Linked DNA regions of Homo sapiens: regions 2 and 3 are each reported to be linked to region 1. The links are microRNA targets in miRTarBase. Many come from high-throughput screens and were not tested one by one. Region 1 holds a microRNA gene; each other region holds the end of a gene's coding sequence.
What was found. Region 1 holds the annotated microRNA hsa-miR-198 (GGUCCAGAGGGGAGAUAGGUUC, at 3,574-3,595, opposite strand). A microRNA usually pairs through its seed, bases 2 to 8, with sites in the 3' UTR of a target mRNA and lowers its output. Matches are read on the target gene's strand: a 7mer-m8 pairs with bases 2 to 8, a 7mer-A1 pairs with bases 2 to 7 and ends in A, and an 8mer does both.

Region 2: the mRNA of MAZ is a reported target of hsa-miR-198. Seed matches in the 3' UTR shown: 7mer-A1 at 632-638.
Region 3: miRTarBase lists NNAT as a target of hsa-miR-198. Seed matches in the 3' UTR shown: 8mer at 820-827.

The regions. Positions count from the first base shown.
Region 1 is chr3:120,392,130-120,400,520 of GRCh38, forward strand. MIR198 (microRNA 198) reads right to left here and starts at 3,600; the gene lies at 3,539-3,600. It overlaps FSTL1 (follistatin like 1), which reads right to left. Exons shown (of 11, transcript NM_007085.5): 10 at 7,754-7,830; 11 at 164-4,867. The coding sequence ends at 4,823. It also overlaps the pseudogene BTNL12P. RefSeq lists a silencer at 7,371-7,490 and an enhancer at 7,581-7,630.
Region 2 is chr16:29,809,842-29,812,971 of GRCh38, forward strand. MAZ (MYC associated zinc finger protein) reads left to right here. Exons shown (of 5, transcript NM_002383.4): 5 at 236-1,323. The coding sequence ends at 390. PRRT2 (proline rich transmembrane protein 2) reads left to right here and starts at 2,352. Exons shown (of 4, transcript NM_145239.3): 1 at 2,352-2,482. It overlaps MVP-DT (MVP divergent transcript), which reads right to left. Exons shown (of 4, transcript NR_186424.1): 3 at 194-332. RefSeq lists silencers at 1,725-1,804, 2,205-2,354.
Region 3 is chr20:37,522,238-37,525,367 of GRCh38, forward strand. It overlaps NNAT (neuronatin), which reads left to right. Exons shown (of 3, transcript NM_005386.4): 2 at 121-201; 3 at 430-1,453. The coding sequence ends at 522. The region is part of intron 1 of BLCAP (BLCAP apoptosis inducing factor); the gene reads right to left. Among named protein-coding and RNA genes, the nearest start is that of NNAT, 2.6 kb to the left of the region's middle.

The DNA.
Region 1 (8,391 bases):
GCATCTCATAAAGTCAAAAGAAGAAAAACAAACTGAGAAAGTATTTGCCACATTCACAACAAAGGGCTAACGATATACTTATGGAGAACTATGACAAACCAGTAAGAAAAAGACCAGCAACCATTAGAAAAACAAAGAAAATGAAGAAAATGACAAGAACCAATTATTCATGAGATGATATTTAATCTTACAAAAGGAATAATGAATATAAAAAATAAAACAAGGAGTTACCATTTTTCCTCTATCAGAGGCCAAAAAGTTCGAAGGCACAATGTTTGCAAGAATGTAGGGAAATGGATATGCTCAGTTTATGTACTTTTGGCAGTCATGCATACTGGTGCAACTTCTTTGACTTTATAGGCAATCATAGGCAAATTTATAAATGTACACACCCTCTTAAGAGGATGGTTTTATTCACTGTATTTTCTGTGATACAATTTGGATTTTTACCATGTACACATATTATTTTTTCAGTAAAAAAGTTAAATCATTAGGAAAACATTAATTCTCATTGACAGGAAGACCCTCCTTCCTATTCATACAGCAACATTTTACTTCCTATGTCACACCATGCAACAGCCCCCAGCAGCAGTAGGCCAGAGTTGTTTTCATGTCCCATATCCCAGCTAGGATTATTCCAGGGCTCTGAAGGCATCTGCTTAGATCTATCTATGCATTCATATTTTTTCCCTTCCTTCCTTCCCCTTATTTCAGAAATAATTCAAGAGGACTGATGATAACTTGATAAAGAAGCTCTAAAATAAAGCTGATCAAAGTAACATACTTCTTTGCACAATTCGTAATATTAAATTTTGATGAAAGGAAACTTAGCTTCTGAATTATGCTTAGTTTAATAATGTTGCACTTCCTGAATACATACATACTATAACAGCAGAAAAAGTTTTCCCAGAACATGGTGGAAGGTTGGGAAGTTAGCCAAAATTTAAAAGTGGTTGTGGACAAGGTACCCTTCAAACTGGGTTTAAGATTCCCTTCTGAGAATGAAAATTTGAAGAATCAAACTGTAAGAGCAGTAATCTGTAGCAATCACATAACAAAAAAGATTGCCTTTTAATATTTGATTAGCATTTGGGTAATATCCCAAATCCAATCAAAGTGATCCAGCTATAATTTTAGGAAAGCAAAACTTCCACATGACTGAACCGAAGAAACCTTAAACCTCATTGACTATAATATGCTCTTTTGGGAGGCAGAATTATTGTGGGTGGAGAGTGCATGATACATATGAAAATGGCAGGTTGGAAAGCGTTAGTCATGTGTCCCCAAGCAAAAGAGGTTTTAACCAGCTAACGTTCAGCCCACTTGGAACTGTTTACCCCCATGGAATGTGTGTATCAAGGAAGTGCCATTAAGGTTATTTAGCCTGTCCCTGGCAATGATTCCATGTTCCCTGTACTACCTTCCCATGTTTATTTGCCTTCTCACAGGCTACTGCAGTCAGCCTCACTGGATGCCATTTAGTCTCCTAAATCATATGGGGGATTTACGAGTCATTTAATTTAATGTCTTCCCAATACAGGAATGCACCTGCTATGGTTTGAATGTTTATGTCCCCCAAAATTCATATGTTAAAATTGAATCCCCAAAGCAATGGTATTGAGAGGTGAGGCTCTTGGGAGATGATTAGGTCATCAAAGTTTAACCCTCATGAATGGGTAAGTGCCCTTATAAAAGAGGCCTAAGGGAGTTTGTTCACCCTTTTCACCATGTGGGGATGCATCAAAAAGGTGCATTCTTTGAAGCAGGCAAGCTTCAACAAGCCGTCATCAGACACTGAATCTGCTGGTACCTTGATCTTAGGCTTCCCAGCCTTCAGAACTGTGAGCAATACATTTCTGTTGCCTATAATTACCCAGTCTGAGGCATTTTGTTATAGCAACTTGAAGGGACTAAGACACTTTCTGACTTGTCATCACCTTCTACTCCAGACCCACTATCCATGATCCTTTCAAAGAAACTTGTTCTACCAGTCCCCGAGTAAACTTTCCATCCAAGCTGTAGTCCCAGGAGAAACTCTTCAGTCCTTTTTAAGGCTCCTGAAACTCAAATCCACTCTTAGGAAGTAAATGGGTAATGTTCTCACGACTTTATTTGGCCTTAATTGGGGGAAAGGAAACCAATAAAACCATCACTTTAATTTCTTTATTCATCAATAGTATCCGAAAAGGAAGAATCAGGAGTTACAAAAACAAGTTAAATGCAATATAGAAGCCTACTAAATACAAATACAAGTTCACAAACACATATGCAACAGAAACTTGTTTAGATTGTTTCTTGAAGTTTGACTACTTAAAAACATAGGTGTAAAGGAAAGACATTCAGACTGGTCCACGTGGGCTTGTTAGCAGGCAGAGGAACCCTGCTTTCCAAAAACTGATATAGTCCAGAGTCACGGCATGTGGGAATGTTTCCATGGACACTGGATCTTAACAGATGCTATAGTGTTTACAAAACTACACACACAGAGAAAGCCCAAGGAAGCCTGCAGGCTAAGCCCTATGCTTTTAGAGGGCTGAAGGAACCAAACCTAGTTTAATCCTGTTTGTTTGCTCCATGCAAAACTTTATGGAAGACTCCCCAGACTAGGCTATTTAGCAGCTTCCATGAATGGTCCTCAGATCATGTGATTCTACGGCATAGACGACAGCTGCCCTATTTACACAGAAGCTGCAGAACTCAAGAGGAATGTGGATTTGCTCTTGGGAGTTCAATGTTGCAGGGTAGAGTAGTCTTGGATGATAACCATGTTCTAAATGACTAGTGAAGAGACACTGTGGTTTCTTGCTTTTAACAAATTGGTGTACTCTTGCCCTCCTCCCATAGTGTCCAAGGGCTGGTAAAACCTTTGATTAAGGCGTGCTGCTGTGAGTTCTCCAAGGCACTTGGACAGGGAGCTGCATTTCAGACTGAACAAGTGGAGTTTGAAGAGTTTTTAGATGGGATGGATACATAAAAGCTTGAAATGCTAAACAAAGTGGAATTTTCTCCTTTCAAATGAGAACAAGAAAAACTAGAAGGAATTCTATTTTTGGCACAACAGTTTCTCACAGTTGCCTGTGCATTACAACCTAAATAATTTCCTTCTGATGGTCTTTAATCTGCTTTCTGCAAATGAGATCTTATGTCAAGGATTTAATCTTTGGTATTCCAAATGCATCTGAAACAGGGTAGTGAGTGGGGTTAATAATCACAGAAGTCGAAAGACACAGGACTAACTGTAAATGACTGACCTCCCCAAGTCACAGTTTTAGGATTAAATCTCCATTTTCTTCCCCCTGTTGAATCTGAAACTTTCTTTTATCCTCATCTCTAAGGGAATGCTTTCTATTTCCAGCCGGAGGTTAAACATGAAATGCAAATATGAAGACAGAGTGGGGTGGTTCTCTTTCCCACTCTCTTCCTGCTTTACCCATGAGGACTCCATATCATAGCACGACCTGTAGGGTCATCAGGCTGAGATCAAATCTGGTCATCTTGTTTTTGGCCATCTGACATTTCTTGTTCTAGTAACAAGATTTCATTTATTCTATAGAGAAGAAGGAAAAATCACAGGAACCTATCTCCCCTCTGGACCAATGATCAGAACCACAGAATTTATAACTTATCAAATCAAAAGGTTAGTGCATTCTTACCAGCTCACTGAGGAAACTGAGGTCCAGAAAAAAGAAGAGACAGGGCCAACTCACCCTCCTAGTTAGTCGAATGAGCATATTGGTAGGCTGGGATATCCTAAGCCCTGCTTGGCTGCCCTTGTCGCCATCCTTGGGAATACTGATTTGCCTCAACTTCTCAGAATAAATAAAAACAAATTAATGTTTGGATCTTGAAAGTTTTTTATGAAGATGCTTCTTCCCCTGGCTTCGGTCTAAGGCACCCTTGCTCCTCTGGCAGATAGTGGACTGCTGGAAGCTAGGGGGGCCAACTATGGGCTGCATCTAGTATGTGGCAGGGTGGGGGCATCTGGGTTATTTCAGCCCCTGCACCAGGAAGAACCCCAAACTCCTTCCACCTATGAAGTGGTGGGACTACTGAAAAATAATTACAAAAGCTTAATACCTAGTCAAGAAAATAAAATATTAAAAAACAATAATATAATGATAATAATTGAAGAATAAAGTCAACTTGCCAAAAAAAAGTGTTTTACAGAGAAATAGCACCTTTGGTAAAAAGTATTTTTAAAATTTGGTTAGGTCGCTAAGGGGCTCAAAGTATACAAGTATCTGCATCATTTGGGTGTACCCTCCCAGAAACTCCATCCAAGTCTGAGGGACACTGGGTTAACTAGCAGTATGGCTATGTATCTAGAGGCAGTTATTGGGACCAAGAGATGCGTGGATGCTGGAGGTCTGTCATGCTGACGGCAATGGAAAGAGGCTGGAAGCAGAGAGCGTTCCTCTCCGTGGAGCTTCCCAAACCTCTCCTCCGGGGACACCCTGCTAAGTTCTCTCTGGCATCGTGTGCACTCCCTGCAGCCTGCTGACAGATGCAGTAAACTCAAAAGAGGTTCAGATTTGGGTCTGTTCCTCTTTCAATCGTGATGCAGTTTCCTTACTAGCCTCCAGCCCCAGAGCACCATTTACAGTTTCTCTTAAAGCACTCCTAGAAATGAAGGCTGTGGCCCTTCCCTTCCTAGCCAGCCACCTTCATATCCTTTATTGCAAAACAAATAAACAAAATAAAACTCATTGCTATATAAGCAAATACTGGTGATTTGGCGACTGTAGCAGACACTTGTGTATACTGAACTCAGCGCTGAAGTGGAGAAGATGCTGGGATCCAGACACTGGTCTGTGCCTCCTCATTAGATCTCTTTGGTGCTCACTCTCTTGGTCTTTTCAGCTGTTTCCTTTGAGATGCAAGAGAAAATAGGCGTCATGGAAATATTAAACAACTGTTGGAATTTATCTGTTCCTCAAGACTATATAGCATTGGCATTTACAAGCTTATGCTGAATTTTAGTTGTTTACTTGTCGGGCTCCTCCACGGACAATGAACAATTTGAGAACAAGAACTATGGCCTATTCATGACATGGTCATGCAGGGGCTGTTTACTGAATTAAGCTGACTCCATTTGGACTCCTATGAAACAAGCAGATCAGACATTATGGTTCCCATTTTAAGGATGAAGAAAATGATGTTAAATGGAAATGCTACAAGATGTTCTTAATCCAACAAGTCCAAAGAAGTGTTAAGTACAACAGGTTCTGGAGGCAGACTGCCTGAGCTTCAACCATGGCTGTGCTACTTTTTGGGTGACCTTGGGCATATTATGAAATCTTCTGTGTCTCAATGTCTTCAACTGCAAAACCACAGTAATAAAGTACCATCTCTTACAACAGTGCCTGGCACAAAATGGCCAATAAGGACATAAGAAGATGCTCAACATCATTAATCACACGGGAAATGCAAATCAAAACCACTTGACACCCGCTAGGACAGCTAAAATAAAAAATAGCAATAACAAAACCGTTGGTGAGTATGTGAAGAAATTGGAACTCTATGGTGAAGATGTACAGTGGTGCAGTAGCTTTGGAAACCAGTTTGGCCATTTCTCCAAAGGTTAAACATGGAGTCACCGTATGACCCAGCAATTCCACTTCTAGGTAAATACCCAAGAGAGCTGACAACATGTGTCCACACAAAAACTTGTGCGAAAATGTTCCTAACAGCTTTATTTATCAGAGCCCCCAAATTGAAACAACCTAAATATCCATTAAATGATGAATGGATAACACAACATGTGGTATATTCGTATCATGGAATATTACTCAGCCATAAATAGGAAAGAAGTACTGATTCATGCTGTAAGAATGAACCTTGAAAACATTATGCTAAGTCAAAGACAGAAAAGGCTATACTGTTGTATGATACCACTGTAATATGTCCAGAACAGGCAAATTTATAGTTAGAAAGTAGATTAGTGGCTGCAAAGGGCTGGAGGAAGATGAGAATGGAGGGTTACTTCTAATGGGTATGGGATTTCTTTCTGGGATAATGAAAATGTTCTGGAATTAAGATAGTAGTGAGATGATTGACAATCTTAGGAATATACACTTTAAAGGGGTGAATTTTATGGTATATGAATCATATCTCAATTAAAGAAATAAATTTTTAAAACCTGACAACATTGCCTGATATCTAGCAGACACTGGTGTTCCATCCATCGCCCCTTTGTGTTTAATGTCTTGGTGTACACTGGCATGACTTCCTACCTACTGCCAGCACCTGCATCTCTGCCTGAGGCCTTTCTCTGGCTGCTGGAGCCCACTCTGTCCACACACACTGATAGGCCACAAATGCCAGGGAATTAACATTTCCCAGTAGCAGCCCTCAGCCAATGGCTAATGGGAGTTCTTGTAGAAACAGCCCAGCTTCATCCCCACTCAGGCACTGTTATTCCATTCCCAGAGATCCCCAATAGGATTAAGAGTCACTTGTTAACAGTGGTAACATGCCTGAATACACACTCTTCATTACTTCCTTCTCTTTCTGGACTCATTTCCCAAATCTCCCTCTGGTGTTTCCTGGCATTGCTTCCCAAATAAACTATGTGTACTTGCATCCTTGCCTCAGCATCTGCTCTGAGGGGACTCACATCAAACACAGAAACTTAAACATATTAGCTACTATAATTCACTCTGTACTGTCTGATAACTGTACTGTCTGATATTCTAGACGAAAGTAATTCCTATGAAGTTTTTTTCTCTTTCATGGGATTGAACTCATTTGGAGACTCAAGACTGGTGAAATTTGAAAAGCAAAAGACTAGAAGCTTTTGCTTCTGCTTAAACAACCGACATGAGATTTCTATACTATCAGTGACAATGATGACAAAATGCACATTAAGAATGATCAATAAATGGGCAATTACTATTAATAGTAATAGTTCTGTTTACTCATGTCAAATATTTCATATCAATAGTTTAGCAGTTCTTGTGACCATTATATTCCTTAAAAACTTCTATGTCAGAGAGAAGGCTAATACTACTACATTCGGTCTACGGACAGGTAATGGAAGGTGCAATATCCTGTATTAAGACTACATAATAAGCCAGTAGGAGGATGGGCCAGGAGTTCAACAGTTCCACAATATGTCAGAGCATCACTATTCTGCTAAGAACCCTTTCCCCAAGGAAGCCTTTAACTTAATGACATAGAACCTGAACAAAATTCTTATTATCTTCTTGAGTCTCTGGGAAGGAGACTCTTTGTTAACCCCAGGCTATTTTCTAGCCAGACTGATGTTGAACTTAAATCCTTTCTGCTGTGGCCCAAATCCACTGCTTTCATGCTCACTGAGTGCTGACTACATACCAGGCCCTGTGAGACTGCAAGGGTACAATGATGAGCAAGTTACAGAGCCTGCTTTCAGGAGCTCACAGTCTTTGGGTCTGGACACTGGTCATGACAGGATACACACTTCCTTAAACCACGCTCATTTGCAAACCACTTCCACCTCATTTGCAAATCACCACCTGCCTGATTTTGCCTTATGCAGCCACTCACCGAGCTGTAACCTATATGTGTTGAGACCTACTGGGCCCTGTGAGGACTTTATCAGGGAACTGTCTGTATCACAGTTTGATAGTACAGGTGATGGGGTATCACTCAAGATGTACTGTATTGAGCAGAGAGAGCCTCCTTGGTCTCCTGGGGCACTGGGCAGTGTTTGAATGGTATAGGGCCTGATGGCAACAGCAACACCTGAACCAGCACGGAGGCTGCCACTCACCTGATGCTTTTGGAGCTCCTGGACATATCTGGTCATCTCCTCCTCTGTCTGGGTCTGGGCCCCCTTCTGATTCTTTCCTGCAAGAAGAACCAAAGCTCAGAGCAGTAGCAGCTGTGGTAAGCCAGTGAGGAATCCGCCAAGATCTACCTAGAGGCTCTCAATTCATCTCCCATTTAACTTGTGGAAGGAGAGGTGAATTACCCACATTTTCTGAGTATGAAGGCATGAAGGGGCCCTGTGTAATTGATACCTCCAAGGTAACACATTGTAACAAAGCAATCTACCCCAACTCCTCTCTGGCCTTTGTTCCTTTAACTGCTTAGCACATCCCAGCCAGAAGCTGGCCCTACAAAAAAAGTTATGGTGAAAACTTGGATCCTGACACTGGAGATTTCTCTGAGACAATGACTCTCAAGTCATTCATATACCATCAAAATGTCCTGGAGAACATTTGAAAAGATAGCTGTCTAGTTCCACCTTCAGAGATTCTGATTTAATTGATGTGAGGTGAGATCTGGACACCAGTATTTTTTTACAAGTCTTTCTAGTTGGTTCTAATGTGCAGCCAGGGTTGACAACCATTTCATCTAGCAATGTTTCTGAAACTTGCACAGTGATAAACAAAAACAAAAACTACA
Region 2 (3,130 bases), not on the chromosome of region 1:
CTCAGGAAGGCGAGGGATGCCCATGTACCACTCAGGCTAGGGAGACTTCTGGGCACAGGGAGGATCCTTGAGAACTGCTCTGTCTGGGTGAGGATGCAGGCTGAGGCCTCTGGGGTCCAGATAGGAAGTGAGCAACGGCTGTGTCCCAGGGGAAGCAGGCTGGGAAGGTGTGGGGTGAGGGCAAGGCTCTTGCCATTCAGATCGCGCTGTGATCCGTGGTGTTTCTCCTGTGCAGGTACTGGTGAGGTTTGTCCAATGGCGGCGGCAGCGGCAGCGGCGGCAGCGGCAGCAGCGGCAGCAGTAGCAGCCCCTCCCACAGCTGTGGGCTCCCTCTCGGGGGCGGAGGGGGTGCCTGTGAGCTCTCAGCCACTTCCCTCCCAACCCTGGTGAGCTCCAAGTTGGTTGCGGGGGAGAGGGGAGAATGGAGTAGAGTCCCTTGGTACAAGCTCCTCTCCCCCCTCTTTTCCCACCAACTCCTATTTCCCTACCAACCAAGGAGCCTCCAGAAGGAAAGGAGGAAGAAATGTTTTCTTAGGGGAATTCGCTAGGTTTTAACGATTTGTTTCTCCTGCTCCTCTTCTGTCAGACCTGACCCCACACAAACCTGTCCCCTCGGTTGTGTTGAAGTCCCCTGGACAGTGGGCAGGGGTGGCAGAGGACACGAGCAGCCACTGCCCGTACCCCCTCTCCTCTCTGTAAGCCCATGCCCTGTCTTCCCAGGGACTTGTGAGCCTCTTCCCTCGACGGTCCTCTTCTCTCCTTCCAGTCCTCTCCCCCTGCTGTCTGCAGCCCCTCCCCGGGGAGTTGGTGCTTTCTTTTCCTTTTTTTTTTTTTTCCAGGGGGAGGGAGGAGAGGAAGGAGGGGGATCAGAGCTGTCCCAAAGAGGGAAAGCGGTGAGGTTTGAGGAGGGGCAGAAGCAGGGCCGGCAAAGGTTGTACCTTCATAAGGTGGTATGGGGGGTTGGGGTCAGGCCCTGAACATCGTCCTACTTGAGAATCTGTCAGGGGAAAAAGTCAAGGGGAGCAGGAGGAAGAGCCAGGAGGGCCAGAGGCAGAGAAGAGATGGAGTCTTAGGGGCCAGGGTGAGCGAGGGGTCCAGGGCCTAGAGGTGCTTCCTGGGGGCGGGGGAATGCAGCCAGTGTCCCCCTCCCCTCTTCCACCCCAGCTCCAGCCCTGGTCTTGTCTTTTCATCCCTCTTCCCCACGACAGAAGAAGTTGTGGCCCTGGCCATGTCATCGTGTTCCTGTGTCCCCTGCATGTACCCCACCCTCCACCCCTTCCTTTTGCGCGGACCCCATTACAATAAATTTTAAATAAAATCCTGTTTCTGGCTCTGGATTGAATGAATTGCCCTCACTAAGAACTGCCGCCAACCCCAAGGGTTTCTTCTCGGCCTGGTGTCCGTCAATCCAGCCTTGCTCTGCCCTGTGAGGCTGTGAGGTTCTGGCTCCGCCCTCCCCAGGGGCAGCCTTACTGGCGGCAGCACAGATACAGGGCGGGGCCAAGGCTGTGGCTGTGGAGAGCAAGTTCCAGGTCTCTGGGGAATTCCCAACTCGGACAGGCCCAGAATAGCCCCTGGAGGTTTGAAGAGGCCCCGTCAGAAACCCAAACAGAGCTGCCAGACGGGAATGCCGCCCTCCCCCGTCCACACTCATGGCCGCTGCTCAGCCCCCAGCCGCATCCCTCCCCACGCGCGTCACGGCCCTGAGGCCATGGTGGGTGGATGCGGCTGCGGAAAGGCTGGGGAGTCCGAGCCCTAGGACTGGGAGCAGCGAGGTAGAGAATGAAAGCTGCACCTGTCCCTCATCCTGGGCATGGGCCACTCTGTGTTTACACGGGCTCCTCTGCCCAGCTCCTCCTGCCCCTTGGAATTCCCTTTCCTGTCCCCGCTCCGTCCTTTCCAGGGCCCCTTTTTTGAGCCTTCCAGCGCCAGTTTCTGCCGCTCCTTTCTGCAGGCTCCATTCTCTCCAAACCCCACCCTGCTCCTCCTCTGCAGCCTCCCCGCGTCTTGCCCCATCTTCCTTGCCCTCCTGCTCGTAGAGACGCCTCCACCCGGTCCTGCCTGTCTCACTGGTCCCGTCTCCTCGCAGAACCCTCTCCGTTTCCCCCAAATCCCCGTCTCTTCCAGGAATCCCGGTGACCGTTGGCGGGAGGGGCCGGGGACTTAAGAAGGAGGCGTCTCTCCTGGAGGCGCGCGTGAGAAGGGGCAGGGAGGGGGCGCGAGTGGTCCCCGGGCCGGTTGCCTGGGTAACGCGTGGCTCCCTTGGGCTGGCGGGAGGGGCCGGAGGCTCGCGAGGGGCGGGGGCGGCGACGGCGGCGGAGCGTAGGGGAGGGGACCGGAGAGGAGGGGATGAGCACACGGGAGAGGAGAAGAGGGAGACCCGCCGCCTCCCTCCCTCCCTAGCTGACTTGCTCCCTCCCGGGCTGCGGCTGCTGCAAAAGCCAGCAGCGGCAGCGGGAGCTGTCCGGAGGCCGGCGTCGAGGTGAGACCCGGGCAGACTGAGGCTGCGGGTAGGAGTGGACCGACCGACGGCTGACGCCGGGCGGACTGCACGGGAATGCGGGTGTCTGGAGGGCTGGTGGTGGTGCTGGGCGGGCTGAACCATCGGGAGGAGGCGCCAGCCCACCGAAGGCGAGGGAAGCCCCGGGAGAGGGGCTGACAGGGGATCGAAGGAGATAACCAGGTCCCCCAGAAAGGGGCGGGAGCGTCCTCGCCCTAAACGCGCAGCAAGAAAACCCGCACCGCCTGGGAGCCCAGGGAGGAGGGGAGGATGCAGAGGGAGTGGAATGCGAATGTCGGGTCCTCTGCCCAGTCGGCCTGTCGGAGTGCTATTTGCACAGCTCGTTGATTTTGGGGTGCTGGGATCTGAGAGTCTGGATCTTGTTGGATGGACCCAGGGAGAGACCCTGGAGAAGGTCCTGTTTACAAAAGGGTTAATCTTCCCCAGGGCTCTCCAAGCAGAAGACTTTGAGTAGAGCACTCCTCCCGCAGGGATGTCCCACCCTAAGGCAAAGGAAACCCCAACTTTTCTTCCTCTCCCTAGAGGCAGTGCAAGGCTGGCCCTGAGACAGGAATGTGGCCCAATTGGGCCTGCAGTGCTGAGCGCCCTCTTCCCTCCTCACCCCAAGCC
Region 3 (3,130 bases), not on the chromosome of region 1:
AGAGATAAATCAGAAGAAAGCGCTTTGCCCATAAAATCATTTACCCTAAAAGCTCCCTTTGCAGGAAGAATTCCCTGCTAAAGGAATCCTTTGCCAAAGGAATCGCATATTTCCTTCAAGGTGTTCCTGGAATGCTGCATTTACTGGGTAGGATTCGCTTTTCGAAATCCTCCAGGGACACAGCCCATTGCGAGAAGTGAGGTATACCTAAGTTGTGGGTCCAATCAGCTTGCCGCCATGCAGCTCTCAGCACAGTTGGAAAAGCTCCAGCTGCCCTGACTCGTGGACAAGCTGCGCCCGCGCCCGCCTCTCCAGCCTACGCTGGATGGGCGGGCGGGGCAGGGGGTGGGGCGGGGGTGGGCACGGCAGCACCACAGACATGCTGTGGGTGCTCTCCACTAAGGGTGGGTCCTGGGTTTCTCGTCGCAGGTGTTCAGGTACTCCCTGCAGAAGCTGGCATACACGGTGTCGCGGACCGGGCGGCAGGTGTTGGGGGAGCGCAGGCAGCGAGCCCCCAACTGAGGCCCCAGCTCCCAGCCCTGGGCGGCCGTATCATCAGGTGCTCCTGTGCATCTCGGCCAGCACGGGAGCCAGTGCCGCGCAGGAATGTGGGGTCCCCTGTGTTCCCTCGCCAGAGGAGCACTTGGCAAGGTCAGTGAGGGGCCAGTAGACCCCCGGAGAAGCAGTACCGACAATGACGAAGATACCAGATCCCTTCCCAACCCCTTTGCACCGGTCCCACTAAGGGGCAGGGTCGAGAGAGGAGGGGGGATAGGGGGAGCAGACCCCTGAGATCTGGGCATAGGCACCGCATTCTGATCTGGACAAAGTCGGGACAGCACCATCCCAGCCCCGAAGCCAGGGCCATGCCAGCAGGCCCCACCATGGAAATCAAAACACCGCACCAGCCAGCAGAATGGACATTCTGACATCGCCAGCCGACGCCCTGAATCTTGGTGCAGCACCAACCGCGTGCCTGTGTGGCGGGACTGGAGGGCACAGTTGAGGAAGGAGGGTGGTTAAGAAATACAGTGGGGCCCTCTCGCTGTCCCTTGCCCAGGGCACTTGCATTCCAGCCTCGCTGCATTTGCTCTCTCGATTCCCCTTTCCTCCTCACTGCCTCCCAAGCCCACCCTACTCCAAAATAATGTGTCACTTGATTTGGAACTATTCAAGCAGTAAAAGTAAATGAATCCCACCTTTACTAAAACACTTTCTCTGAACCCCCCTTGCCCCTCACTGATCTTGCTTTTCCCTGGTCTCATGCAGTTGTGGTCAATATTGTGGTAATCGCTAATTGTACTGATTGTTTAAGTGTGCATTAGTTGTGTCTCCCCAGCTAGATTGTAAGCTCCTGGAGGACAGGGACCACCTCTACAAAAAATAAAAAAAGTACCTCCCCTGTCTCGCACAGTGTCCCAGGACCCTGCGGTGCAGTAGAGGCGCACCAAAACTTTGTCTCTTGTGATTTCTTTAGCGGCATCAACATACACTTCTAAGACTCAGCTGATGTGCCCACTGTGGAACAGGCACACTGCTTGGGGGAGGGAGGAAAAGGAGGGCCATCAAAATTGCAATAAGCTGGGCCCCTCACACACCCAACCCCATCTCAATGCTGTCCTGTGATAAAGGACCATCTCCCCCTCTCCCCAAAGAGAAAGGCTGACATCTTCACTTGTGGTCCTGGAATAAGGGACCACTTCCCCCTCCCCAAAGGGATAGGTGCTTTACTTGTGGTCTTAGGATAAGGGGCCAAAGCAAGTATCACTTTGGGAAAGATGAGAGGAGGGGAAAAAGGTGGGAGTAGCCCTCCAAAGAGGTACTAGGGACCAAGGGGGTGATTTCAGAACACAAAGCCTTACTTCAGGTCTCCATCCAGGAGCCCCAAAGAAATGAGTAGTGGGCAGGGTGGACAGTGGCTTAGACAATGAGTATGGGATAAGAGGTGCAGCGTGGCGCCTTCTTCACCCAGCTTAATGCTGCAGGCCCCACATCCACCAGGACCACTACAAAGACAATCTGCCTGGCCTTGCTACTCTGCAGGGTCTCCTGGCCCCACCTCACCCCAGAAACCTCTCTCCCCAATACTGGGTTTCTGCTTTTCCCAGCACCAGCCTCCGTATTCTTAGGAATGCTTACCAGGTCCGTGGCCCTGGGCTCTCCCCTGCCATCACGTCAGGGTGGGCAGTGCTCGGCCTCGGACTTGTCTTCCTCTCCCACTCCCCAGTGAGTCAGGGCTCTTTCTACACGGGGTCAGCTGACTGTCTCACCAAATGGCCCTGCCGCCTGTTCAGCCTTGTCTCTGGCTTTATGTGTCCCTGTCACTACACACCTGTTGCTGGGTCAACACCAAGGGAGGGAGTTGGAGGGCCATAAATCTCTCTTCCTGCCACTTCTTCGAATCCCTTAGTCACAGCTGTCACAAATACTTCTGAAGCACAAAGTACCTTGCCCCCTTAAGCCTGATCATGTTTCCCTCCCCTAAGCAAGCCCTTAAGTTTCTTAGCCCAATCACCAGCACCTCTAAAGGCATCTAAAACTTCATTCGGTATCAGAGAATTATAGGGGTGGGGAGGTGCAGATCCCGGTTCTGGTCTTGACTTTGCCATCAATCAGCCTAGGGAACCTGGACATGTCACCTTGTACCCTTCATCTCCAGTTTCCCTCTCGAAGAGGGCCTTTGAGATGCCAGTGAACCCTAACACGCTAGAAACTGCCATAGCAGTGGCAATCAGGACTCATCAGGACTTGAAGAGGATGTGCAATCTGAGACTTCATCTTTCTTAGGCTGGGTGGCTATAGCTGCTACCATAGCCTGAAGGTGAGGCAGGTCTCCTCTCGCCCCAGTGTGACTCATCAGCAGGCAATGCCCACACCTCCTCCCTTCTGAACCCCATATCTTGGCAGGCCTCAAAACTGGGAGTTTCTGTGGTTTTCCACACTAAACCCACAGAATCATGAACATACCAACATGTGTTCTCCATGAAGGCTGACCCTCCCTTCGGAGCTTTTGAGGGGTATGCCCATAGCCCCACTGCCCTTCTTGATGCTCTAACCTCAGCCCAAGTGACAAGGTAGCAGATTTCAGGGAGGTAGGCCAAAGCAGCATGGTAAGAGCTGGCTGCTCTGG